Linked DNA regions of Homo sapiens. The protein of the gene in region 3 interacts with the protein of the main gene of each other region in a pairwise test. Each region holds a gene or a part of one and is shown on either strand. Other genes may lie near its edges.

What was found. Proteins that work in one complex are often made in the same cells at the same time.
Region 1: the proteins of LMAN2 (region 3) and ATP13A2 interact in a two-hybrid assay, tested with the Homo sapiens proteins (one study listed by BioGRID and IntAct).
Region 2: the proteins of LMAN2 (region 3) and SUPT5H interact in a two-hybrid assay, tested with the Homo sapiens proteins (one large-scale study listed by BioGRID and IntAct).

The regions. Positions count from the first base shown.
Region 1 is NC_000001.11:16,991,429-16,994,928, reverse strand, and holds part of ATP13A2 (polyamine-transporting ATPase 13A2), read left to right. Parts: intron 1-1,093; coding exon 1,094-1,300; intron 1,301-2,347; coding exon 2,348-2,443; intron 2,444-2,526; coding exon 2,527-2,686; intron 2,687-2,799; coding exon 2,800-2,920; intron 2,921-3,070; coding exon 3,071-3,195; intron 3,196-3,500. UniProt on the Homo sapiens protein: ATPase which acts as a lysosomal polyamine exporter with high affinity for spermine. Also stimulates cellular uptake of polyamines and protects against polyamine toxicity.
Region 2 is NC_000019.10:39,452,082-39,455,581, forward strand, and holds part of SUPT5H (transcription elongation factor SPT5), read left to right. Parts: intron 1-1,274; coding exon 1,275-1,440; intron 1,441-3,500. UniProt on the Homo sapiens protein: Component of the DRB sensitivity-inducing factor complex (DSIF complex), which regulates mRNA processing and transcription elongation by RNA polymerase II.
Region 3 is NC_000005.10:177,341,669-177,345,168, reverse strand, and holds part of LMAN2 (vesicular integral-membrane protein VIP36 precursor), read left to right. Parts: intron 1-3,500. UniProt on the Homo sapiens protein: Plays a role as an intracellular lectin in the early secretory pathway. Interacts with N-acetyl-D-galactosamine and high-mannose type glycans and may also bind to O-linked glycans.

The DNA of each region.
Region 1 (3,500 bases), on a different chromosome or scaffold from region 3:
GCACTTCGGGAGGCCGAGGCGGGTGGATCATGAGGTCAGGAGTTCAAGACCAGCCTGGCCAATATGGTGAAACCCCGTCTCTACTGAAAATATAAAAAATTAGCCAGGCACGGTGACATATGCCTGTTGTCCCAGTTACTCGGGAGGCTGGGGCAGGAGAATCGCTTGAACCCGGGAGGCAGAGGTTGCAGTGAGCTGAGATCACACCACTGCACTCCAGCCTGGGCAACAGAGTGAGACTCCGTCTCAAAAAAAAATAAATAAACCGGGGAGGGGGATGACCAGATTCTTATAGTTCCCAGGCTAGCCAAGGAGCCAGACGCGTACTTGGGCAGTTAGAGTCTAGGATGGGGAACGCAGGCACTGACTCATGCGCTCATTCAACAGATATATTGAGGCTGGGCGTGGTGGCTCATGCCTGTAATCCCAGCACTCTGGGAGGCCAAGGCGGGTGGATTGCCTGAGGTCGGGAGTTCGAGACCAGCCTGACCAACATGGTGAAACCCCGTCTCTACTAAAAATACAAAAATTAGGTGGGCGAGGTAGCGCGTGCCTATAATCCTAGCTGCTCGGGAGGCTGAGGCAGGAGAATCACTTGAACCCGGGAGGTGGAGGTTGCAGTGAACTGAGATTGCGCCACTGCACTCCAGCGCGGGCGACAGAGCAAGACTCCATCTCAAAAAATAAAAATAAATAAAAATAAAAATAAATAAATAAATAAATAAATAAATGAGAGAGAGAGAGCGAGCCAACCGTGGGCCGGGTCCTTAACCACAATGCACAAGTGTGGGGAAGTGAAGAGGCCATGGGTAGGAGCCCAGAGCAAACCACCTGCCCTAACTTGGGAGTTAAGGAGGAAGACACCCTGGAAGAGATGATGCTAGACAGAGAGACGGTGGGGGCTGGGGAGGGGGACCCCAGCAGAGGGAATCACATGTGCCAAGGACAGCAGTCAAGAAAGGTCATCTTTTGGCTCCAGCTCGAGTTCCTGGGGTTCCCATAGGGTCCGCCGGGCCTGGGGTTTGGAGGCCCAGCTCAGCAGGGTACCCCCATCCCAGGACTCATCGCTGCCCCACCCACCTGTCTCCCACAGACGGGCACCCTCACTGAGGACGGCTTAGACGTGATGGGGGTGGTGCCCCTGAAGGGGCAGGCATTCCTGCCCCTGGTCCCAGAGCCTCGCCGCCTGCCTGTGGGGCCCCTGCTCCGAGCACTGGCCACCTGCCATGCCCTCAGCCGGCTCCAGGACACCCCCGTGGGCGACCCCATGGACTTGAAGATGGTGGAGTCTACTGGCTGGGTGAGGAGGCCAAGCAGGTCAGCCCCCTGCCTCTGGGCAGTGGGGCCTAACGAATCCCACCCTGTCTTCCCTCTCCATCTTTCAGGGTGGTCTCTTATTATGCCCACCATTAATAATAATAGGCCAGGCGCAGTGGCTCACACCTGTAACGTGGCTCCCGGCGCTTTGGGAGGCCAAGACGGGAGGATCACTTGAGCCCGGGACCCCAGCCTGACCTACATGGCAAAACCCCATCTCTGCCAAAAATACAAAAATTAGCCGGGCGTGGTGGTGCATGCCTGTAGTCCCAGGAGGCTGAGGTGGGAGGATTAATTGAGCCCGGGAGGGCGAGGCTACAGGGAGCTGTGATCACGCTACTGCACTCCAGCCTGGGTAACAGAACGAGACCCTGTCTCAAAAAATAATAATGATAGGCCAGGTGCAGTGACTCATGCCTGTAATTCCAGCACTTTGGGAGGCTGAGGTGGGCAGATCACCTGAGGTCGGAAGTTTGAAAGCAGCCTGGCCAACATAGTGAAACCCCGTCTGTAATAAAAATACAAAAATTAGCCAAGTGCGGTGGAACATGCCTGTAGTCCCAGCTACTTGGGAGGCTGAGGGCAGGAGAATCATTTGAATCCGGGAGGCAGAGGTTGCAGTAAGCCGAGATCACACCACTGCACTCCAGCCTAGGTCACAGAGTAAGACTCTGTCTTAAAATAAAAGTAACATAATAATAATGGCAAGGCCTCAGGCTGAGTGCCTACTATGCGCCAGCGCACGGCCACAGAGGCCTGGTCTCATTTCCTCTTCCCCAAGCCCTAGCAAGCAAGCTCAAATGTTGCTTCACGGATGCTGAGGCTGGGAGATTTGGAGTGACGTATTCCAGGTCACCCAACAGCTTGTAAGTAGCAAAGCTAGAGTTTGAATTTGAGTCCACCGGGCTCCAAAGCCCACATTCTTAACCCACCATTCAGTCTCCCATGAAGGAAGTCTTCCCTGAGTCTAGCTCAAATCTCTCTGTGAGCCAAAGCCCCCAGACACCAAACTTCCCTGCCTGCCTGCCAGGTCCTGGAGGAAGAGCCGGCTGCAGACTCAGCATTTGGGACCCAGGTCTTGGCAGTGATGAGACCCCCACTTTGGGAGCCCCAGCTGCAGGCAATGGTGAGCTGAGGGGGGCCTGTTGGGTGCAGGGCAGAGGGGTGGGCTCCCCAGCCAGCACCTCAGCTGCCTCTCCAACCCTGCAGGAGGAGCCCCCGGTGCCAGTCAGCGTCCTCCACCGCTTCCCCTTCTCTTCGGCTCTGCAGCGCATGAGTGTGGTGGTGGCGTGGCCAGGGGCCACTCAGCCCGAGGCCTACGTCAAAGGCTCCCCGGAGCTGGTGGCAGGGCTCTGCAACCCCGAGACAGGTGCAGGGGGAAGCCCCTGAGTCCCCCTGGTTGGGCATTGGCACAGAATGGGGTGGGTACCCAGCCTCTGTCCCTGCCATCCCCTCCTTGTGACACCTGCCTCTCCCTGGCAGTGCCCACCGACTTCGCCCAGATGCTGCAGAGCTATACAGCTGCTGGCTACCGTGTCGTGGCCCTGGCCAGCAAGCCACTGCCCACTGTGCCCAGCCTGGAGGCAGCCCAGCAACTGACGAGGTGGGCCTGTCTCCTGTCCCACCCACTCTGAGGACTAGGCAGAGGGAGGCTCTCACGCAGGCAGAGCCCAAGGAAGATGCCCTGCCTGGTGGCTGGGAGAGGGGCCCTGGCCACTGCATGACCTCTGATCCAGGTCTGCCCACCCTCCAGGGACACTGTGGAAGGAGACCTGAGCCTCCTGGGGCTGCTGGTCATGAGGAACCTACTGAAGCCGCAGACAACGCCAGTTATCCAGGCTCTGCGAAGGACCCGCATCCGCGCCGTCATGGTGACAGGTACAATGGCATGTAGGGGCCCGGGCTAGCAGGGCAGAATCCGCCCCTTCCTGGCAGAGAAGAGGGGCACCAGGGATTCCTTTTTGGGGCATCTTTTTGGGCCCTTGCTTCAGGCCAGGTCCTTTTTAAACATTTCGTGAATCTTCACAATATCCCCCCCGCAAGTGGTAATTGTCACCCCTGTTTGACAGATGAGGAAACTGAGACTCAGAGGAGTGGAGTGACTTCCAAGGAACCCATGTGCGCTGTCAGACAGCCTGGGTTCCAGGTGGCACCTCTGAGAAATGGGGATAATGATGTCAGCC
Region 2 (3,500 bases), on a different chromosome or scaffold from region 3:
GGGTTGGAGAAATGATGTTTACAGGCAGAAAGGATGAGGATTTGGTGCCTGTCGGTAATTGGAGGAGGCCATCACAGGTCTAGGGGAAGACACTGAGGTCAGTTTGGGACACAGTGAGTATGAAAGGGCTCAGAGGCCATCTAGGGGAGGCATCCAGGATGCTGCTGGTGCATGGAGGTCTTGAGTTCTGGAAAAAAGTGGGACTCTATAGACAGATGAGGACACGTGTCATCTCTAGAGACAGGAACTGAGGTCATGGAAAGTAAAATGGACAGGGAGAGAGGGCATGGAGGGAGAACAAAGTGGCCCTGGACTGAGCCCTGGTAATTGATGTCAGATTTGAAGGGGTTAACAGTAAGAGGAGCTTGAAGAGGAGCTGGTGGAGTTTTGAGAAAAACCAGGAGAGCATGATACGGCAGAAGCCAAGAGAGGAGCATTTCTCCAGGGAGGGCATGGTTGGGGTGCCAGATGCTGCTGGGATGGTAGGGAATACAGAATGGCCACAGAATTAGCAACAGGGGTGGCCAGTGATCTTCGTGAGCAGTGTGGACTAGAAACAGAGATGGGAGTCACTGTCACAGAGATGTCCACCACCGCCAAGGGAGAGGACGAGATGGCCTTGGGGAGTTGTAGAATGGGAAGAGATGGGCCAGGTGCTGTGGCTCACACCTGTAATCCCAGCATTTTCGGAGGCAGAGGCGGATGGATCACCTGAGGTCAAGAGTTCGAGACCAGCCTGGCCAACATGGTGAAGCCACGTGTCTACTAAAAAAATACAAAAATTAGCCAGGTGTGGTGGCGCACACCTGTAATCTCAGCTACTCAGGAGGCTGAGGCAAGAGAATTGCTTGAACCCAGGAGGTGGAGGTTGCAGTGAGCCAAGATTCTGCCATGGCACTCTAGCCTGGGAGACAGAGTGGGACTCTGTCTCAAAAAAAAAAAAAAAAAGAGAGAGAAAGAAATGAGGCCCAAGGACCAAGCTTCATCAAGCTATTATAGTTAAAGACTCGGTGGAAAGTGAGCAAGAGGTCTAGTGCAGGGAGAAGCCCGGGTCAACTCCCAGGGTTGCTTGGGTGGCTGGGGAGATGGCAGTGCTGTCGCTGAGATAGGATGGTAACCAGAGAGGCCAGGCTAGAGTGAAAGGGATATATGCAGAGCAAAGTGGGCTATGATTGGCCAGGCCAATCTGAGGTCAGATTTAGGGTGAGGAACTTGGTTTTTGGATTTTTGGGGTAGCAGAATTCTGGTGCTACAACCCTGCCTGACCCCTGTAGGTAGACGAAGAGCGGCGGAGTGCAGCGGGCAGTGAGAAAGAAGAAGAGCCTGAGGACGAAGAGGAGGAGGAAGAGGAGGAGGAATACGATGAGGAAGAGGAGGAAGAAGATGATGACCGACCCCCCAAGAAACCCCGCCATGGAGGCTTCATTCTGGACGAGGCTGGTATGTCATAGTGCTTGGCCAGTGCCGAGCAGAGGCTGAGCTTCTACTTTTAGTTCCATTTCTTTTTCTTTTTTTGAGGCGGAGTCTCGCTCTGTCGCCCAGGCTGGAGTGCAGTAGCATGAACTTGGCTCACTGCAAGTTCATGCCATTCTCCTGCCTCAGCCTCCTGAATAGCTGGGACTACAGGCGCCCGCCACCACGCCCGGCTAATTTTTTCTATTTTTTAGTGGAGACGGGGTTTCACCTTGTTAGCCAGGGTGGTCTCAATCTCCTGACCTCGTGATCTGCCCGCCTTGGCCTCCCAAAATGCTGGGATTACAGGCGTGAAGGACCAAAGTTCTTAACTTTTCTCGTGCTACGGCCCCTTCTGTAGTCTGGTGAAACCCTGTTCCCTTCTCAGAATCATCTTCTGAAATGCATAAAACAAAATACATAGGATTCCAAAGAGGACAATTTATTGAAGTACAGTTATCAGAATATTTAAAAAGAACATTTTGGTGCATATGTTTCTTTGTTAACATATTTAGGTAATAAGACTTTGTAGGTAGTCTGAGAATCTAATTTTCAAGTAGCAGTGAGTGTAAATGCTGCCTTGAGATACCTATAGCTGTAATGTGCTGTGAAAGAGCCAGTGACACAGCTAACATTGTGTGGTTTGTTGCCATTGTATGTAATTGATGTAAATGCTAAATTTCAATTCCAGGTTACTGAAAATAGGAGCTGTAGTTTTTTCATCGAACACAGACCACCCCAGATGAAAAATCTCTGTTCTACGTGTTAAATCCCTGTTAGTCAAATTGCTAGGTAAAGGTGGTGCATTTTGTTGTTGTCGTTGTTTTTTTTTTTTTTTTTGAGACGGAGTCTCGCTCAGGCTGGAGTGCAGTGGTGCGATGGCTCACTGCAACCTCTCCCTCCTGGGTTCAACTGTTTCTCCTGCCTCAGCCTCCTGAGTAGCTGGGACTACGGGCACGTGCCACCATGCCTGGCTAATTTTTTATATTTTTAGTAGAGACAGGGTTTCACTGTGTTAGGATGGTCTCGAACTCCTGACCTTGTGATCCGCCCGCCCTGGCCTCCCAAAGTGCTGAGATTACGGGCGTGAGCCACCATGCCTGGCCGCACTTTTTTTAAAAAAAGATTTTTTATATTTACGGCCAAATATCAGTTCCTAAAAAGATAAGACTAGTTCATACTTCCATGATGATAATGAATGTGCATGTTTTCCCTTACCTATGGGAAGAGGGGTTACTTAGAACACATCCTGCCTCTGTTTTCCTGGGACTGTTTTACCTGAGAAGAAAAGTAGTTTATTGTCAAAGGGACAGGAGGTGCTCTGGATGTTCTTGGAGAGCAAGAGAATGGATACCATGCTGGGTAAAAGCTGTGGGTTCCCAGGGACACCCATATGTTGGTGGTGGAAGTGTTGGTGGGCACTGCCTGTGTGGAAGGCTGTGTGGCAGTGCCTGTTAGCATTTAACATGCAGGAACCCTTTGACCAAGCAGTTCCTCTTTAGAATTTACTTTATGGTTAAACTTGCATGAGTGCATGAAGACCTGAGAACAAAGATGCTTGTTGTAGTCCTGTTCGCAGTTGCAAAAGTTTGGTGACCTAAATGTTTATTGATGATTAGGGCCTGGTTAAACAAATTATGGGCCATATAGTATATGAGGCATGTGCTGCTGTGGGAGAGCTCTGAGTTAGTAGTAGTTTTGAGAAAAAGAAAGGTACAGAACGGTGTGTTAAAAAAATTACGTGGGGGCTGGGCGTGGTGGCTCATGCTTGTAATCCCAGCACTTTAGGAGGCTGAGGCGGGTGGATCATCTGAGGTTAGGAGTTCGAGACCAGCCTGGCCAAGATGGCGAAACCCTGTCTCTACTAAAAATACAAAAATTAGCTGGGCGTGGTGGCGGGCGCCTGTAATCCCAGCTACTTGGGAGGCTGAGGCAGGAGAATTGCTTGAACCCGGGAGGTGGAGGTTGCAGTGAGCCGAGATTGCTGCACTCTAGCTTGGGTGACAGAGCAAGACTCGGTCTAAACAAAAAAAATTACATGGGGGGAA
Region 3 (3,500 bases):
AGGGTTTCACCATGTTGACTAGGCTGGTCGTGAACTCTGGGCTCAAGCAGTCCACCCACCTTGCCCTCCCAGAGTGCTGGGATTACAGGCATGAGCCACTGCGCCCAGCCTGACAATGGCATTTAAAAGATGTCATGGCTATGTAAAAAAATGTTTCCACTGTTGTACGTACACATCTGCACATGCAAGAAAATTTCTCAAATCTTTCTTCCTTTTCTTTTCTCTTCTCTTCTTTCTCTTCTTTTCTTTTCTTTTCTTTTTTTGAGACAGGGTCTCACTCTGTTGCCCAGGCTGGAGTGCAGTGGCGCGATCTCGGCTCACCACAACCTCTGCCTCCCGGGTTCAAGTGATTTTCCTGCCTCAGCCTCCCTAGTAGCTGGGACTACAGGCGCCCGCCACCGCACCCGGCTAATTTTTGTATTTTTAGTAGGACGAGGTTTCACCATGTTGGCCAGGCTTGGTCTTGAGCTCCTGACCTCAGGTGATCTGCCTGCCTCGGCCTCCCAAAGTGCTGGGATTACAGGTGTGAGCCACTGCATCTGGTCAAATTTCTCAAATATTTCTATTGTGATAAAATGTATGTAACACAGGCTGGGCGCGGTGGCTCACGCCTATAATCCCAGCACTTTGGGAGACCGAGGTAGGTGGATCACGAGGTCAGGAGATCAAGACCATCCTGGCCAACATGGTGAAACCCCGTCTCTACTAAAAATACAACTAATTAGCTGGTCATGGTGGCGTGTTCCTGTAATCCCAGCTACTCAGGAGGCTGAGGCAGGAGAATTGAACCAGGGAGGCAGAGGTTGCAGTGAGCTGAGATCACGCCACTGCACTCCACCCTGGCGACAGAGCAAGACTCTGTCTCAAAAAAAAAAAAAAAAAAAAAAGTAACAAAGCGTACCATTTTAACCAGTTTTTAAAATTAAAAAAAAATTTTTTTTTTTTTAGAGATGGGGGGGGTCTCACTTTGTCACGGAGGCTGGAGTGCAGTGGTGCAATCCTAGCTCATTGCAGCCTCGAACTCCTGGAGTCCAGTGATCCTCCTGCTTAGTGTCCTGAGTAGCTGGGATTACAAGGCATGTGCTATTGTGCCTGGCTAATTTTTTTTTTTTTAATTTTTTGTAGAGCTGGGGTCTCACTATGCTGCCCCGGGCTGGTCTCGAACTCCTGGCCTCAAGCAATCCTCCTGCCTTGGCCTCCCAAAGTGCTGGGATTACAGGCGTGAGCTACTGCGCCTGGCCCATTTTAACCATTTTTAAGTGTACAGGTCAGTGGCATTAAGTGCATTCACATTGCTGTGTAGCCATCACCACCGTCTGTCTCCAGAACTCTTTGCTCATCCCAACTGAAACTCTCTACCCATTTAACAATCACTCCCATCCCCACAGTCCCTGGTAACCACCATTCTACCTCATCTCTGTAAATTTGACTATTCTAGGCATCTCACATAAATGATAAATGGAGGCATACAATATTTGTCTTCTTTGACTTATTTTACTGAGCATATGTTGAACGTTCCTCCATACTGTAGTATATGTCAGTACTGCATTCCTTTTTGTTGCTGAGTAATATTCGTGTGTGTGTGTGTGTGTGTGTGTGTGTGTCTAGACCACATTCCGTGTATTCATCTATTCGTAATGGACACTTGGGTTGTTTCCATCTGTTGCCATTGTGAATAGTGCTGCAGTGAACATTGGTATACAAGTATCTGTTTGAATCCTACTTTCAGTTCTTTTGGGTATATACCCAGGAAGTAGAATCTCTGGATCATACGGTCATTCTATTTTTACTTTTTTGAGGACTACCAAACGGTTTTCTGTAGCAACTGCACCATTTTATATTCCCACCAGCAATGCACAAGGATTCCAATTTCTCCACATCCTTGCCAACATTTGTTATTATTTATTTATTTATTGAGATGAAGTCTCGCCCTGTCGCCAGGCTGGAGTGCAGTGGCGCGATCTCGGCTCGCTGGAACCTCTGCCTCCCGGGTTCAAGTGATTTTCCTGCCTCAGCCTCCCGAATAGCTGGGACTACAGGTGCCTGCCACCATGCCCAGTTAATTTTTTTAATATTTTTAGTAGAGACAGGGTTTCACCGTGTTAGCCAGGACGGTCTCCATCTCTTGACCTCGTGATCTGCCCGCCTTGGCCTCCCAAAGTGCTGGGACTACAGGCATGAGCCACCGCGCCCGGCCTAGGGTTTTTTAATATATTCTAGATATTAATCCCTTATCAGATATGTGATTTGCAAATATTTTCTCCTATTCTGTGGGTTGTCTTTTCACCCTCTTGATCATGCTCTTTGATGTACAAAAATTTTAGTTTTAGTGAAGTACAATTTATCTTTTTTTTTTTTTTGTCTGTGCTTTTGGTGCTATATCCAAGAAATCTTTACTAAATCCAGTGTCATGAACATTTTTTCCCTAGATTTTCTTCTAAGAGTTTTAAAGGGTTTTTTTGTTGGTTTGTTTATTGTTTTTTGAGGCAGGGTCTCATTTTATTGCCTAGGCCGGAGTGCAGTGGCGTGAACACGGCTCACTGCAGCCTTGACCTCTCCAGCTCAAGTGATCCTCCTGCCTCAGCCCCACAAGTAGCTGGGACTACAGGCATGCGCAGTCAGGCCCAGCTAATTTTTGTATTTTTTTGTAGAGACAGGTTTTCACCGTGTTGCCTGGGCTAGTCTTGAACTTCTGCGCTCTGGTGATCCACCTGCCTCAGCCTCCCAAAGTGTTTCAGATTACAGGTGTGAGCCACTGCAACCGGCCAGGTTTGAGCTCTTAAGTTTAGATCTCTGATCTTTATATACTTATTATTATTTTTTTTTATAGAGATGGAGTCTTGCTGTGTTGCCCAGGCTGGTCTTGAACTCCTTGGCTCAAGCAAACCTCCCATGATGGCCTCCCAAGGTGCTGGGACTACAGGTATGAGCTACTGCACCTGGCCTCTTTACTTTTCAAATTAAACTTTTTATTTTGACATAATTATAAATTCACATGCCGTTGCAGGAAATAATACAGAGATCCTAGGTGCCCTTGGGTTTTGTTTTTTTATTTAGCATTTAGTCCATTTACATTTAATGAAATATGATACATTTGGGTTTAATCTGCTATCTTACTCTATATATTCAAATTGCCTATTCTCTGTTCATTTTTCTCTCTAGTCTTCTTTTAGGTTAATTTTTATTATCCTATTTTTCCTCTTCTATTAGCTTGAAAGTTATATGCTCTTTTCTCAGTTTTAAGTGGTCACCCTAGAATTTAAAGCAGGCATTCATGTTGTACCAAAGACTAATGATAATGTGTACTTTACCTTCTTCCTGGACAGTGCAAGGATCCTAACACACTTTAACTCCATTTATTGTTGTCATTTGTTTTAATTATTTCTGTTTTAAATCACACAACCCATTGTTTTGTGCAGTCAGATATTTAGATTTTCACCCTTATAGTCACTGTATTTGTTGTTCTTCGTTCCTTCTGGAATCTGACTTTACATCTGGAT